4 separate regions of the Homo sapiens genome follow, and regions 1, 2 and 4 are each reported to be linked to region 3. Evidence: microRNA targets listed by miRTarBase, many of them from high-throughput screens and not tested one by one. Region 3 holds a microRNA gene; each other region holds the end of a gene's coding sequence.

Region 1 (3,164 bases), not on the chromosome of region 3:
TATAAATAAGATAATTCAATTACATTGTCATCTTGATTGTAGATAAGGAATAAAAGATAACCAAAACCTTTAAATAGCCAACAGGAAAATATTAAAGAAAACTTAAGGCTGAAAATTAAATAACCAGCAGGCACATAAGCCCCTGTGCCATGCAGCCCAGCCCCAACTATGTGCCTCTTGACAAACCAGGCTGTGCTGAAGCACAGAACAGTAGGGGGCTACCCAGAGGGAGCCAGGACAGACAGGTGCAGGGGAAACCTTCCTGCTGCCTCATGACATGCAGAAGCAGGGAAGGACGCAGCCTCCCCAGGAACCACCAGAGCTGGCCCTGGCATCCCTTAATGAGCACTCCCTCCCCAAGTAACATTAAAAAGACGTCAAGCTCCACCTGAAGAAGACGTTGCCAGAAATCATTTATGGATGAGGCCCTCCCATTTAACAGTCTCCACACCTGACTTTTGAAACCAGGTGTCCATCCAAACAGGTCTTCTTCAAGTTCTCTACCATGACAGCCTGGGTAGCAGAGCTTCCTCAATTTGTATTTTGTTTTAATTTCTACAGGAAAGGAACTGTCTTCTCTCTCCTTTTTTTTTTTTTTTTCCAACTGTTAAATCCAGTCTTACCTAGATCGTCAGCCCTTAGTATCTGCAGGGGTTTGGTTCCAGGATCCCTGCAGATACCAACATCTGAAGATGCTCAATTCCCTGATACAAAATGGTACAGAATTTGCATATAACTGACACACATCCTCCTGTATATTTTAATTAAATAATCTCTAGATTACTTATAATACCTAATAAATGTAAATGCTACATAAAGAGTTCTTGTATTGTTCAGAGAATAATGACAAGAAAAAAGTCTGTACATGTTCAATACGGATGTAACCATCCTTTTTTTAAAAAAAATCGTATTTTCCATTTGCAGTTGGTTGAATCCATGGATGAGAAACCTGCAGATACCGAGGGCTGGCTTCATTTAGATTCCTAATCATTCCTCCAGGTAGTCAATTTTTTAAAATCACATTGACAAGCTCATTCACCCATTTCTTCATTCAACACATATTTATTACAGGGTGATTGGACTTCTAGGCTGTCAGAGCTAGAAAAGGCCTTATGCATCTTTTACCCCACACCCTTCATTTTACCCAAGGGAGATGGAGGCAGGGCTAGCCCTAAACCCAGAGTCTCTCAGCCTCACCCCTGATCTAATCATCATCTCACCACCCCAACCAAGCACTTAGCAGTATAAAACCTTGTGCAAAATATATGTACTTTTTCACTTCAAAAATGAAAATATTACAAGATGAGTTTTTGTACCTTACTGTAATTTATAAAGCTAGTAAATATTAGCAAAATGGAATGATAAAACCAAAGAGTAAAAGTGCCTTTAAAAAAGTAATTGCAGGGTTTGTAAAGATTCTTTCCACTTTTTGTCACATTAAATATTTTATAAAGTCATATGACATATACATATGATGACTTTTCTGCCTTTCTGCACAGTTAGAAAGTCATTCAGGAAAGACAATGATACCACAAAACAACACTCAGAGAATGCACATTCCACAGCACTGACATGTATCATCTATGGTCCTGGTCTACAACATCCGCTGTGGTCTAAACACACACTATGGCTGTTATTAAACAAAACATCCCATTTCTACTTACTTTAATCAGAAGGAGGATGAAGCTGCTGCTAACATTTCGATAACATATCTGATTCTATCAAGTGAAACTACACTGAATTTAATGGGAGTACTGGCTGACAGATCAAACTTAAGTTCTAGACAGTCTTGTCTAAAATAATAGAGGTTTAAATATCCATCTCTCCCAGGAAATTGTAATAATTCTATATGCCAAATTCATTTTCTTATGGACTGTATGTTTGTAAAGGACTATTATCACTCCAATTCTTTCATCAATTTACTTTGCCCCATTCCATAAAATATTAATAGTTAAAAGCCTTAAAAAACCTGTTAGCTGACAGTAACTACTATGAATGAAGAGCTTCAACTGCTAAATACCCTAATCCTCCAGGAAAATCACTTCAAAAATGGACATTTGGGGACAGAATCACTCATTTATCTCAAAACCAGAACAAATAGAAAACAACACCATTAAGGGAATTTAAGTATTTTTCTGACCACTATTGCAGAAACACAGAAAAACTGAGCAGATTGTAGACATGCAAGATCAGCAGTATATAGAAAGGATTAACAAATCAAACTCAGTACATCTCTAATAACTGGATTGAGAGTAGACTCTTAATAAAACCAAATTATTTCTTCCTCAAGGCAACCGTTAGCTACAAAAGAAAAATGATTTCATATCCTTGGTCCATAAAGAAGACACATTTATTTACATTCTCAATGGACTAAAAGAGGCTTTAAACTTCCACAATTAAAATTGTATGCTTCCAAAAATATCATATGATCAATGCACTTAACTTAAAGCTTCAGGTATTAATAACTTCATTTAGACTTCTTAAAAAACCAACACAAACATACTTTCTAGAGTGCAAAATGCTTCTTATTAAATACTTCAGGGACACAAAAGCAATTTGTTTTTAAACAGAGGCATCCTTTTCTGAAGGATCATCACCACAAAGACATCCATTGCCGGCAATGGACGTGAACAGAACTGCCAGCTCGAATAAGATGCAACGTTAGGACTCTGCCTTCAGTTTCTTTGCCTTTCCCGATGACCCCAGTTATTTGTACAAACTCATTGTTGGACTCTGGTACATGCACATATATGCATCACAAAGCAGTCTTCGTGCACAGCCTTGGATTCTCCTGGAGTCCAAGGAATGCAGGTCTTCCAGAGACATCTTCAAGTACTCTCCTACTTCTGGGCATGGGGTGACTTGAGGAATGTTGAAGCCATTCTGACCACCTATGGCACAGAGGAAGAACTCTTTATAGGGCAGTCAAGTTCTAAACCCTTTTGCCAGTGATTTTATAATCCTATCATTTCCAAAAAGCTAATTTCAGGCTCTAAAAGCCTTTATTTTACTTCTGATTTCTGGAAGTGAAAGCCTCCTTTAACCCTTGACATATTCTCATTTCTTGGTTTCTGAAAGGATTCTGGGGCCAACAGTGAATAAACCTGGTAAAAGGACACGAATTCTGAGGTAAGCCCCCAACCTACTTTCCAGACTTCTCTCTG
Region 2 (3,164 bases), not on the chromosome of region 3:
AAAATAGGCAGTGGATTTGGCTCTCAGGCCATATATGGTTGACTGTGAGTGCAGTTCCTCACCTCACATAGATAATTCTTTTTTCTGTTTGTTTGTTTTTGGTTTTTTTTTTTTTTTGAGACAGAGTCTCACTCTGTTGCCCAGGCTGGAGTGCAATGGCGCGATCTCGGCTCACTGCTAGCTCCGCCTCCCAGGTTCACGCCATTCTCCTGCCTCAGCCTCCCAAGTAGCTGGGACTACAGGCACCCGCCACCACACTGGCTAATTTTTTGGTATTTTTAGCAGAGATGGGGTTTCACTGTGTTAGCCAGGATGGTCTCGATCTCCTGACCTCGTGATCCACCTGCCTTGGCCTCCAAAGTGCTGGGATTACAGGCGTGAGCCACTGCGCCTGGCCCACAAAGATAATTCTTTGTGTCCTTTACTGTTCTCAGCATTCGGGTTGTGGTCACGGTGGAACAAACAGAGGAAGAACTGGAGAGAGCTGCGTCCACCATCAAGGAGGTAGCCCAGGCCGTCCTGCTCTAGGCAGAGTCCCGGGACCATGGCCTCCTGCCACACAACACGCAGAGAGGACTCAAGACTCCCGCTGGCCATGGAGTGGCCTGAAAGAGAGCAAGAACATGTGGATCTTTGATAGGATTGTTACCAAATGGTGTCAGTATGGACCAATTGTGTGACCATGAGAAGGATGCTTATTTTTTTTAAAAAGAAAACACATCTAAAAGCCCAGGAACTGATTTTTTTAAGAGGAAAACTAATGACAGTGTATAACTGATGTTTAAATTGTGCATTTAGTACTATTTAAATGTTTTCTTATACTAGTATTTTATATTCTTTTGTTGTCGTTTAAAACTGGAGCTTCAGTGTCTCTTCCCTCCCTCTAATAGTAATGGTTCAGTAAGCACTCCTTAACTCCTTAGTATTTCATAGAAAAATGACTGCAACATTAAAGCTAAGAGGAACACTTCAACATATGTGGTACAAATTTATATTGAAGATCTAAATAAACCACGTATTTTCCAGTCTTCGTTGTGTGAAGCTAAATGGTGGCTAAAAGGAACACTTTTTGTGTGATTATTATAAACTTTGCATTGTATTTGAATCTTAGAACTTTTGTACACACTAAATATTGATGTCACACCATTTCTAATCTGAGCATCCTTAGCCAGAGAATATTCATTATACTTCCTAAGTGAGCAATAATTTAAATCAGAAGCTATTTTATTTTAATGTAATTAACCTTTCTTTACATTTCTTATGTGTTCACCTCTAATCTGTTTTAGGAAGAGAGTTGGTTATTATGTTGATCCCATAATATAAATCATATCCTTTATATTTTAGAATATCTCAAATGTATTCCTTTTTTGTATGGTGGGTTTGCCTAGGGACGTGTAACTACAGGCTTTTACTAAGCCAAGGAAAAAGAGAATTTTTCTTTTCATCTTACAAATTCCAGATATCTACAAAAGATGTGAAAGCACTAAAAATACCATTTTTAAGCAGTACTTTACCTGTTTTTTCTTTAGCAAACCAGGTTATGTGGTGTAAAGGTTTGTTATACGTGCCACAATATAGCATATAAATATTATGCCATCATTCCTTCTCTTGTTAAAGGTAGAAGAATAAAATTGTGATTTTTATAACCTGTGCTTATTACTCAAATGGTCTTCAACATCTTTTTAAACAACACATACTTTTTGAATGTTCAGTTTCTATTTTGCTTGAGGTATTTTGTACATATGTGCCTTGTGATTGCTGCTGCTTTAAAGGATAAAGTACTCTTTGGGGGATGAGTCTGGTTTGTTTTGTTTTATTTTTTAATGAAATAAACCTATATTCCTGATTATTAGTCTATTTGCATATGTAATATATCCAACAGAATAGTCTCTTAATTTTAACTTTTTTGCACTGGGGTAGTATTCTTTGTTGTTTGGTCTTATTTTAGAAAATAACAATTAAATTTCTTAGTTCCTTTTTTCACATCCAACCAAAGAATATATAGTATCTGAAGTTTCCTAGGTTCTTGCTGACCTCATAGGACTACAAAAATATCATGGCCATTATTTTCATAAATAACTGTTCAGCTTCTTTTAGAATACTTTCTAAGTGAAAATAGCAACATCAAAATAATGTTTGTAATAAACTTTTTGAAAATATGATCAGGAGTTTCTGGGAAAGATGGCGGATCAGGCACATTATTTCAGTCCTTAAAACCAACATTGTAAACGAAAGGAACCAAAAGTAAAATTTTTGTGTTAAAATTATAGAGTGACCACAATCCAGTAATATACACCACGATGAAATGTCTACTAGAAACAGTAAAATTTGGATCAAACTGAAGCAAAATGCTGAGAAAGTACAGTCATCTCAAATCTGGACCAAGTTACAAATTCCTCTTTTACAGAGTGAGAAGTTTCCAGAGTGCTCTACCAATGATCTGTGTTTTAAAAGGCAGTGGCTTGGGGTGAGCAGTGTAGAGACCATTGGGAGCCCATTTCCACTCAGCAGGACTGTCCGCAGGGAAGAAGAGAACCACACCACCTTTTTATTGTCTGTGACTAAATTCTAACTTCAGGAAAAGTAGGGCTTTGGGGCAAGTTGGGACAGAAAATACACCAGTTATTTCATCAAATTCAGTACTTCACTAATTGTACCATGTGTACTTTTTTTATGTACCACTAGAAGAAAATAATTCTATCTGTATTATGCTGTAAGATGTCTTCCAATATTAGAGATATTACAATGTGGGTAGAGAAGATGTATCTTTAAGTCTATGAAATAATAATCATCTGATGTGTGGGCCTCATGCCATCTTTCCTTGTGGGCATAAAACCTTAGTCCCAGAAGATAGAGATGTCCAACATGTAAATCTGAATATCTCCATGCATCTTTCCAAAACACTGTCCCTATGATGACATCAAATAAAAACATTCATAACGTACACCTAACAGTATGGGTTAAGCTATGGAGGATGCTTAAACTTCATTTCCTTACTTATTTCCTGGTGAAGAGGAGTAGGAAGCTTAAGGATGATGGAACACAGATAAAATAACTCATCTCGACAGCAACATTTTCTAGAGATTTGAAGGAAGAAGGAAATGTGATTCAAGGATTTTATTTCCACAAAGCAGTCTTTCAAGTAACAAAGTTATAGAAAAACA
Region 3 (3,164 bases):
TTGGGAGGCCAAGGCAGGAGGATTGCTTGAGGCCAGGAGTTCAAGACATCCTAGGCAACATAGCAAGACCTTGTCTCTACAATAAAATAAAAATGTAAAGAGCTGTGCATGGTGGTGTGTGCACTTGTAGTCCCAGCTACTTGGGAGGCTAAGGTGGACTGATCACTTAAGCCCAGGAGGTCAAGGCTGCAGTGAGCTACGATCATGGCACTGTACCCCATCCTGGGCAACAGAGTACCCTGAGATGAGAAGTAAAACAAATCCTGTAGCTCTTGATCTTCCTATTCCCTACCTATTTCCGGTCCATTTACCAGGTAAGGAAGTATACTCCTAAAGTTTCCACTTACTCAGATGTAGAAATGAATTTCTTTTTCTCTAAAAGATACGGAAACTACTCTCTTAAAAAAAGAAAAAATAAAAATTTAAAAAACGTTGTGCAGAAACTTGAGACAATAAGGAGCAGAGTTATATGTGAAATCCAGGTTGCTTAGATAGGAGATTAGCTACATATATTTTTTATTAATGGGAAAAATACTCAGAAAAATTTCATATGGAATGTGACCCTGTGCTTTGTATAAGTAATTAGATATTAGAATGGAAGAGCAAATTTTAGTGCTTTGGTTGTGTACATCACCTTACTATTCTGTAATAGATGTAACTTTAGCATAGTCATTTTAATGATGAGAACATGGGGCAAAAAAGATTGTCCAGGCTTGAATGGTGGCACCACTAGAGTGGTGGCAATTTTCTGATATCTTTTAGAGAAAAGGAATTTCATTTCTACATCTGAGAAAGTGGAAACTAGGAGTTTCTTCCTTACCTGGTAAATGGGCCAGAAACAGGGAATAGGAAGATTAAGAGCTATGGGATTTGTTTTATTTCTCATCTCAGGGTACCAAATTAACTCATCATCCCAAGGATTCATATTTTAGAATTACTTAAGGATTCATATTTTAGAATTACTGTATCAAATGATATCCAACTCTAAGAGAACTTCTAGTATGAAGATCAATGTTGAAAGTAAAATATTTAGATTATTAATAACAAATTATTTAAGGGAGAATTAGTTTGTTTAGAGCTTTTTTTCTTAACTATATTTGGAATTAAAATGTCTTAATTAGATATTTAATAAAATTAACATTTAGAATTAAAGTATTTTTCTTTAAAAGTATATTTGCATTTTGCTAGCTTAAGTTTATTGAAACTGAGCTCTTGTATGTCATTTCATGTTTTTCCCTTGATGTGAAGTCTTACCTATTTGATGAAGATGTCTTTTGAAAGGTGTACTGCAAGGAACAAAATGTTTGTAAATTCTCCTTTTACCAAGGTAAAGATCAAATTTTATAAATTTACTTGTTTGTTTATACAAGGAAAAATAACTTCATATATTGAATATATTCAAAAGTTTAAGCATTTAGTTGTATTGCCCTGTTAAGTTGGCATAGCAAATAAATGCTTTTCTTTTCCTCATTTTATTCTTTGTGTTTCCTAACCTATAGCACTGTGCTGGGCACAGAATGGACTTCAGTTAAGTTTTTGATGTAGAAATGTTTTATTATTCTACTTAAAATCTCCTTAAAAATAATTATGCATATTACATCAATGTTATAATGTTTAAACATAGATTTTTTTACATGCATTCTTTTTTTCCTGAAAGAAAATATTTTTTATATTCTTTAGGCGCGAATGTGTGTTTAAAAAAAATAAAACCTTGGAGTAAAGTAGCAGCACATAATGGTTTGTGGATTTTGAAAAGGTGCAGGCCATATTGTGCTGCCTCAAAAATACAAGGATCTGATCTTCTGAAGAAAATATATTTCTTTTTATTCATAGCTCTTATGATAGCAATGTCAGCAGTGCCTTAGCAGCACGTAAATATTGGCGTTAAGATTCTAAAATTATCTCCAGTATTAACTGTGCTGCTGAAGTAAGGTTGACCATACTCTACAGTTGTGTTTTAATGTATATTAATGTTACTAATGTGTTTTCAGTTTTATTGATAGTCTTTTCAGTATTATTGATAATCTTGTTATTTTTAGTATGATTCTGTAAAAATGAATTAATACTAATTTTTCAGATGTATCATCTCTTAAAATACTGTAATTGCAATTTAATAATTGTATTGAATGCCATCAAGTTTTTTTAAAAAGCTTATGCAGCATTAGAGGAATTTATTTTAATGCACATTTATATTCAACATAGACATTAATTCAGATTTTTACTTGGGATAAAACAAATTCTAGTTTTCCCTTTGTTTTGAAATTACTTTTAAAATATGTCTTTACAGATAAATATAAAATATATTAAGCATTTTGAACAGAGCTTAGAAGACAATATTTAGTACTGTTTCTGAATATTTCTTTATATCTGAAGGGGAAAAGCCATCAAAATATGTGAATTAAATACCTAAAATTCTGGTTGTCAAAACGTCACACTTAACCATAACTTTAAAGGTAGAAAAACCCTTACAAGTGACCAACCCACTCATTGGATAGCTAAGGAAACACAAAACTCAAATAATTTGCTACACATCACAGATTGGGGTCTTAGTCTTATGTCTTCTAACTTTATAATGGTATACTATTTTTTTCATGTTTTTATTAAAATGTTTTCTTAAATCCTTAGCCAAAGATTTTTGTTTGATAAGTCAAAAATAAGGTCTTGTTTACTTTGTTTACTTTTTTGTATTCAAGATTTAACTCAGAGTAAGACCAAATTATCATTGTAGTTTTATTGATATAAAATGTCAACATAATTTAATTTTTTTTTTTACTTTTTTGTATTTTTAAAATTTTTTATTAAAAATAAAAGTAGACAGCCAGGTGCGGTGGCTCACGCACTTTGGGAAGCCGAGGCAGGCGGATCACCAGGTCAGGAGATCAAGACCATCCTGGCTAACACGGTGAAACCCCATCTCTATTAAAAATACAAAAAAAATAGCCAGGCGTGGTGGCGGGCGCCTGTAGTCCCAGCTACTCGGGAGGCTGAGGCAGGAGAATGGCATGAACCTGGGAGGCGGAGCTTCCAGTGAGCTGAGATCGCACCACTGCACTCCAGCCTGGGTGACAGAGGGAGACTCTGTCTCAACAAAAAAAAAAAAAGAAAAGAAAAGTAGAGCTGGGCACAGTGGCTCAAGCCTGTAATCCCAGCACTTTGGGAGGCCG
Region 4 (3,164 bases), not on the chromosome of region 3:
TGAATAAACATTTTGTAAACAAAATTATTAAACACTTGGAAAATTTCTTCCCAATTAAAGTCAATTTGTACCTACAGACTTAAAAATACCACATACATGGCCAGGTGCGGTGGCTCACGCCTATATTCCCAGCACTTTGGGAGGCCGAGGCAGGTGGATCACCTGAGGTTGGGAGTTCGAGACCAGTCTCATCAACATGGTGAAACCCCATCTCTACTAAAAATATAAAAATTAGCCGGGCGTGGTGGCACATGCCTGTAATCCCAGCTACTTGGGAGGCTGAGGCAGGAGAATCGCTTGAACCTGGGAGGCAGAGGTTGCAGTGAGCCAAGGTCACGCCATTGCACTCCAGCCTGGGCAACAAAAGTTAAATCCTGTCAAAAAACCAAGAATGCCAGGCGCGGTGGCTCACGCCTGTAATCCTAGCATTTTGGGAGGCTGAGGCAGGTGAATCATGAGGTCAGGAGTTCGAGACCATCCTGGCAACACGGTGAAACCCTGTCTCTACTAAAAATACACCAAATTAGCTGGGCGTAGTGGTGGGTGCCTGTAATCCCAGCTACTTGGGAGGCTGAAGCAGGAGAATCGCTTGAACCTGGGAGGCAGAGGTTGCGGTGAGCCAAGATCGCGCCACTGCACTCCAGCCTGGGAGACAGAGCGAGACTCCATCAAAAAAAAAGAAAAAAAAAAAACAAAAAAAAACAAAGCCACACACACGGACTAAACTTGCAGAGAAATGATGCTTGGAAAACAGCTGATTACTCAGCCACTGCGCACCACGGTGGAAACAAGCAGGCTTTGGTGTACGGTGTCACAGGTGAACACGGCGAGTCCAGGGAATGAGACTCCGGCTACACTTCTAAGTCACAGCAGCTGTTCTCTCCTGTCTGTGGTCCTTCCACAGACCCAGTCTGTTTTCCGACCAAGCACCCCTAAAGCGCTCAAAAGTCACATTCTCTGAGCAGTTTATAATTTTGAAGGCTACCAAAACAGGCACTACAACTACTACTAATGCTGAACAAATGATGTTTCTAAAAGATAAAAATGCTATACAGAAACAAAATAGTGCTTTAGATTTATTCCTATAAAACACATACCCTTTAAACTAGGGTCCATGAGGATTAACTTTCGACATCGGGGGCTGTCAGAGGTCGTGGACACCCCCAACTCCAGCCGGGCGCTGAACAATGTAAAAAGAATTTGCTCTGCAACCCTGTGGGGGGGGGAAATAAAAGTAACCCAGCGTCCATTTAATGCAGCCAAGTGCAATTCCTTTCCCCACCTTAGAAAGCACCACCAGATAATACAGCAGAACTGATCCTGCAGAAAGGTTGCTGGAGGGTCAGGCCGTGGTCGTAACTAACACCACATTCCCATTTTGTTTGCTGGATAATTTTTTAATAAAGTGAGGTTTACATCACTGATATTTAAGAATGGCTATATGCACAAAAGAAAACACACCTTTTTGGTTAAGGGGTGAGGAAGTTAGAGAAAGCATGAGAAACAGGGAGCATGTGGGGTGAGGCGGGGCAGGAGTGGAAGGCTGCAGGCACCCCCAGCTCACTCCCTGCCTGCGGCAGCACCCATGACACTACAGATCAAGGGGTTATGAATGACATGGATTCAGATTTCTTTCATTCTAGACTTCAACCTAGCCTTAACCTTTTGTTTCAGCACCAGTCTAACAGAGCAGCGCAGGCGTTTCTCATCCAGCAGCAATGCTACTTCCTCACCCAGGGCAGGTGCATGGGCTGACCCTGATGGGAGCCTCCAGGAACACTGCCTTGAGAAGGCACCACCGAGGGGCTATGAGGTCCCTGAAGACCAACTGGTGCCTGTGATCTACAAACAGACAAATATTTGACCTTTGTCTTCAATGACATTTACATATAAATAGACATAAATAAAATCCTCCATAATTTACTCTTAGGTCTAGGAAGATGTGGCTGTGTGCGGCTCCTGATTTTCACCCAGGTCTCACTGCAGCGCAGGACATAATGAAGAAGTATCACACACACATTTAAAGTAAAACATGATACATTCACACTGTTGACTGAGACTGTAGTGATGCTCACTGCAAAAAACAAAACAAAACAAAAAACCCTTATTTAAACCTTAAAAAAATGAAACACACCAACTGCAATTGTTTAGGCTATAAAAGTTCTAATGTAGCAGCAAAGGATGTTTATAGAAAAAATATACTTTTAAGAAAATAGCTGAAAAAATCTAAAGAGATAAGGTATAAAAAGTTTAAAAAATATATCTTAAGACAAAATACTGCCCAAAACATGTAAAACTGAATTGTAAAAATTCACCTATCTAAAGGTAAAAGGAGGTTGATGCAGCTGCGGCTCACCGTCCTCTACAGTGGGGGACACAAAGAGACACGAGGGGCCCAGGGCTGTGGGGACGTCAGAAGACAAGAAGCCTTCCAGAACAGCCTCTGCCTGGCGCTCCACAGGGGGGAGGTGAGTGGGACGGGCCTAGGGCTGCAGCCCCACTGGTAATGGGCTGTTCTGGGATTTCTCAGAATCAGCAGACAGGGCAGCAAGGCTGGGCCGCTGGCGGCAGGCGCACCCTCCGTGGGAGCCAGTGCTCACGTGTCAATGCGTCAGAGGCGGCTGTGAGCACTCAGGGCTCCTGCTCAGGTCTCCACCAGGATCTCCACCACGTGGTCCAGCTCGCCCAGGTCGGACTTGCAGCTGGAGCTAGGGCCTGGGGTGGCCGGAGCCAAGCCCTCGAGCCCTTCGCAGGGGCCCGGCCTGGCACCCCCCATCATGCCTGTCAGTACTGTGTCCAGGTCGTAGTAGGGGCTGTCCACGTCTGAGAACAGCTCTTCCATGCAGCTGGGGTTTTTAGTCTCCAGCGTTTCAAATATCTGATCAAGTGACTTGTGAAAGCTTCCTCTGTTTTCTCGAGGGCCATCCATCTCCCAGGCGCTGCTCTGCAGGTGCCTTGGTGCCTGTGCTGAGGTGACTGGGCAAAGGTCAGAAACTGGACCCTGTGTGTGGCCGTCCCCCAAGCCAGGAGCAGGATGTGCCCCCTCTTGCCCCCACGCTGCACGGCACAGGATCTCCGTGGAGACCAAGCGGTCGAGCGGCGCCCGCTCTGCAGCCTGGGGTGCCACTGTGCGCCACGTCCCATCCTGCGTCATCTCCTCTTGG

What was found. Region 3 holds the annotated microRNA hsa-miR-15a-5p (UAGCAGCACAUAAUGGUUUGUG, at 1,723-1,744, shown strand). A microRNA usually pairs through its seed, bases 2 to 8, with sites in the 3' UTR of a target mRNA and lowers its output. Matches are read on the target gene's strand: a 7mer-m8 pairs with bases 2 to 8, a 7mer-A1 pairs with bases 2 to 7 and ends in A, and an 8mer does both.
Region 1: miRTarBase lists CYLD as a target of hsa-miR-15a-5p. The part of its 3' UTR that is shown has no 7-base or 8-base seed match.
Region 2: miRTarBase lists SPTLC1 as a target of hsa-miR-15a-5p. Seed matches in the 3' UTR shown: 7mer-m8 at 1,757-1,763 and 7mer-m8 at 1,760-1,766.
Region 4: miRTarBase lists CDCA4 as a target of hsa-miR-15a-5p. Seed matches in the 3' UTR shown: 8mer at 2,170-2,177 and 7mer-m8 at 1,712-1,718.

Annotation. Positions count from the first base shown.
Region 1 is chr16:50,796,051-50,799,214 of GRCh38, reverse strand. CYLD (CYLD lysine 63 deubiquitinase) reads right to left here. Exons shown (of 19, transcript NM_001378743.1): 19 at 1-2,891. The coding sequence ends at 2,707. All of the region lies in intron 2 of CYLD-AS2 (CYLD antisense RNA 2), which reads left to right. Among named protein-coding and RNA genes, the nearest start is that of CYLD-AS2, 5.7 kb to the left of the region's middle.
Region 2 is chr9:92,029,829-92,032,992 of GRCh38, reverse strand. SPTLC1 (serine palmitoyltransferase long chain base subunit 1) reads left to right here. Exons shown (of 15, transcript NM_006415.4): 15 at 435-1,846. The coding sequence ends at 528. Among named protein-coding and RNA genes, the nearest start is that of ROR2, 81 kb to the right of the region's middle.
Region 3 is chr13:50,047,747-50,050,910 of GRCh38, reverse strand. MIR15A (microRNA 15a) reads left to right here and starts at 1,710; the gene lies at 1,710-1,792. DLEU2 (deleted in lymphocytic leukemia 2) reads left to right here. Exons shown (of 14, transcript NR_152566.1): 6 at 1,249-1,327. It overlaps MIR16-1 (microRNA 16-1), which reads left to right and starts at 1,850; the gene lies at 1,850-1,938.
Region 4 is chr14:105,008,560-105,011,723 of GRCh38, forward strand. CDCA4 (cell division cycle associated 4) reads right to left here. Exons shown (of 2, transcript NM_017955.4): 2 at 1,014-3,164. The coding sequence ends at 2,645. Among named protein-coding and RNA genes, the nearest start is that of CDCA4, 11 kb to the right of the region's middle.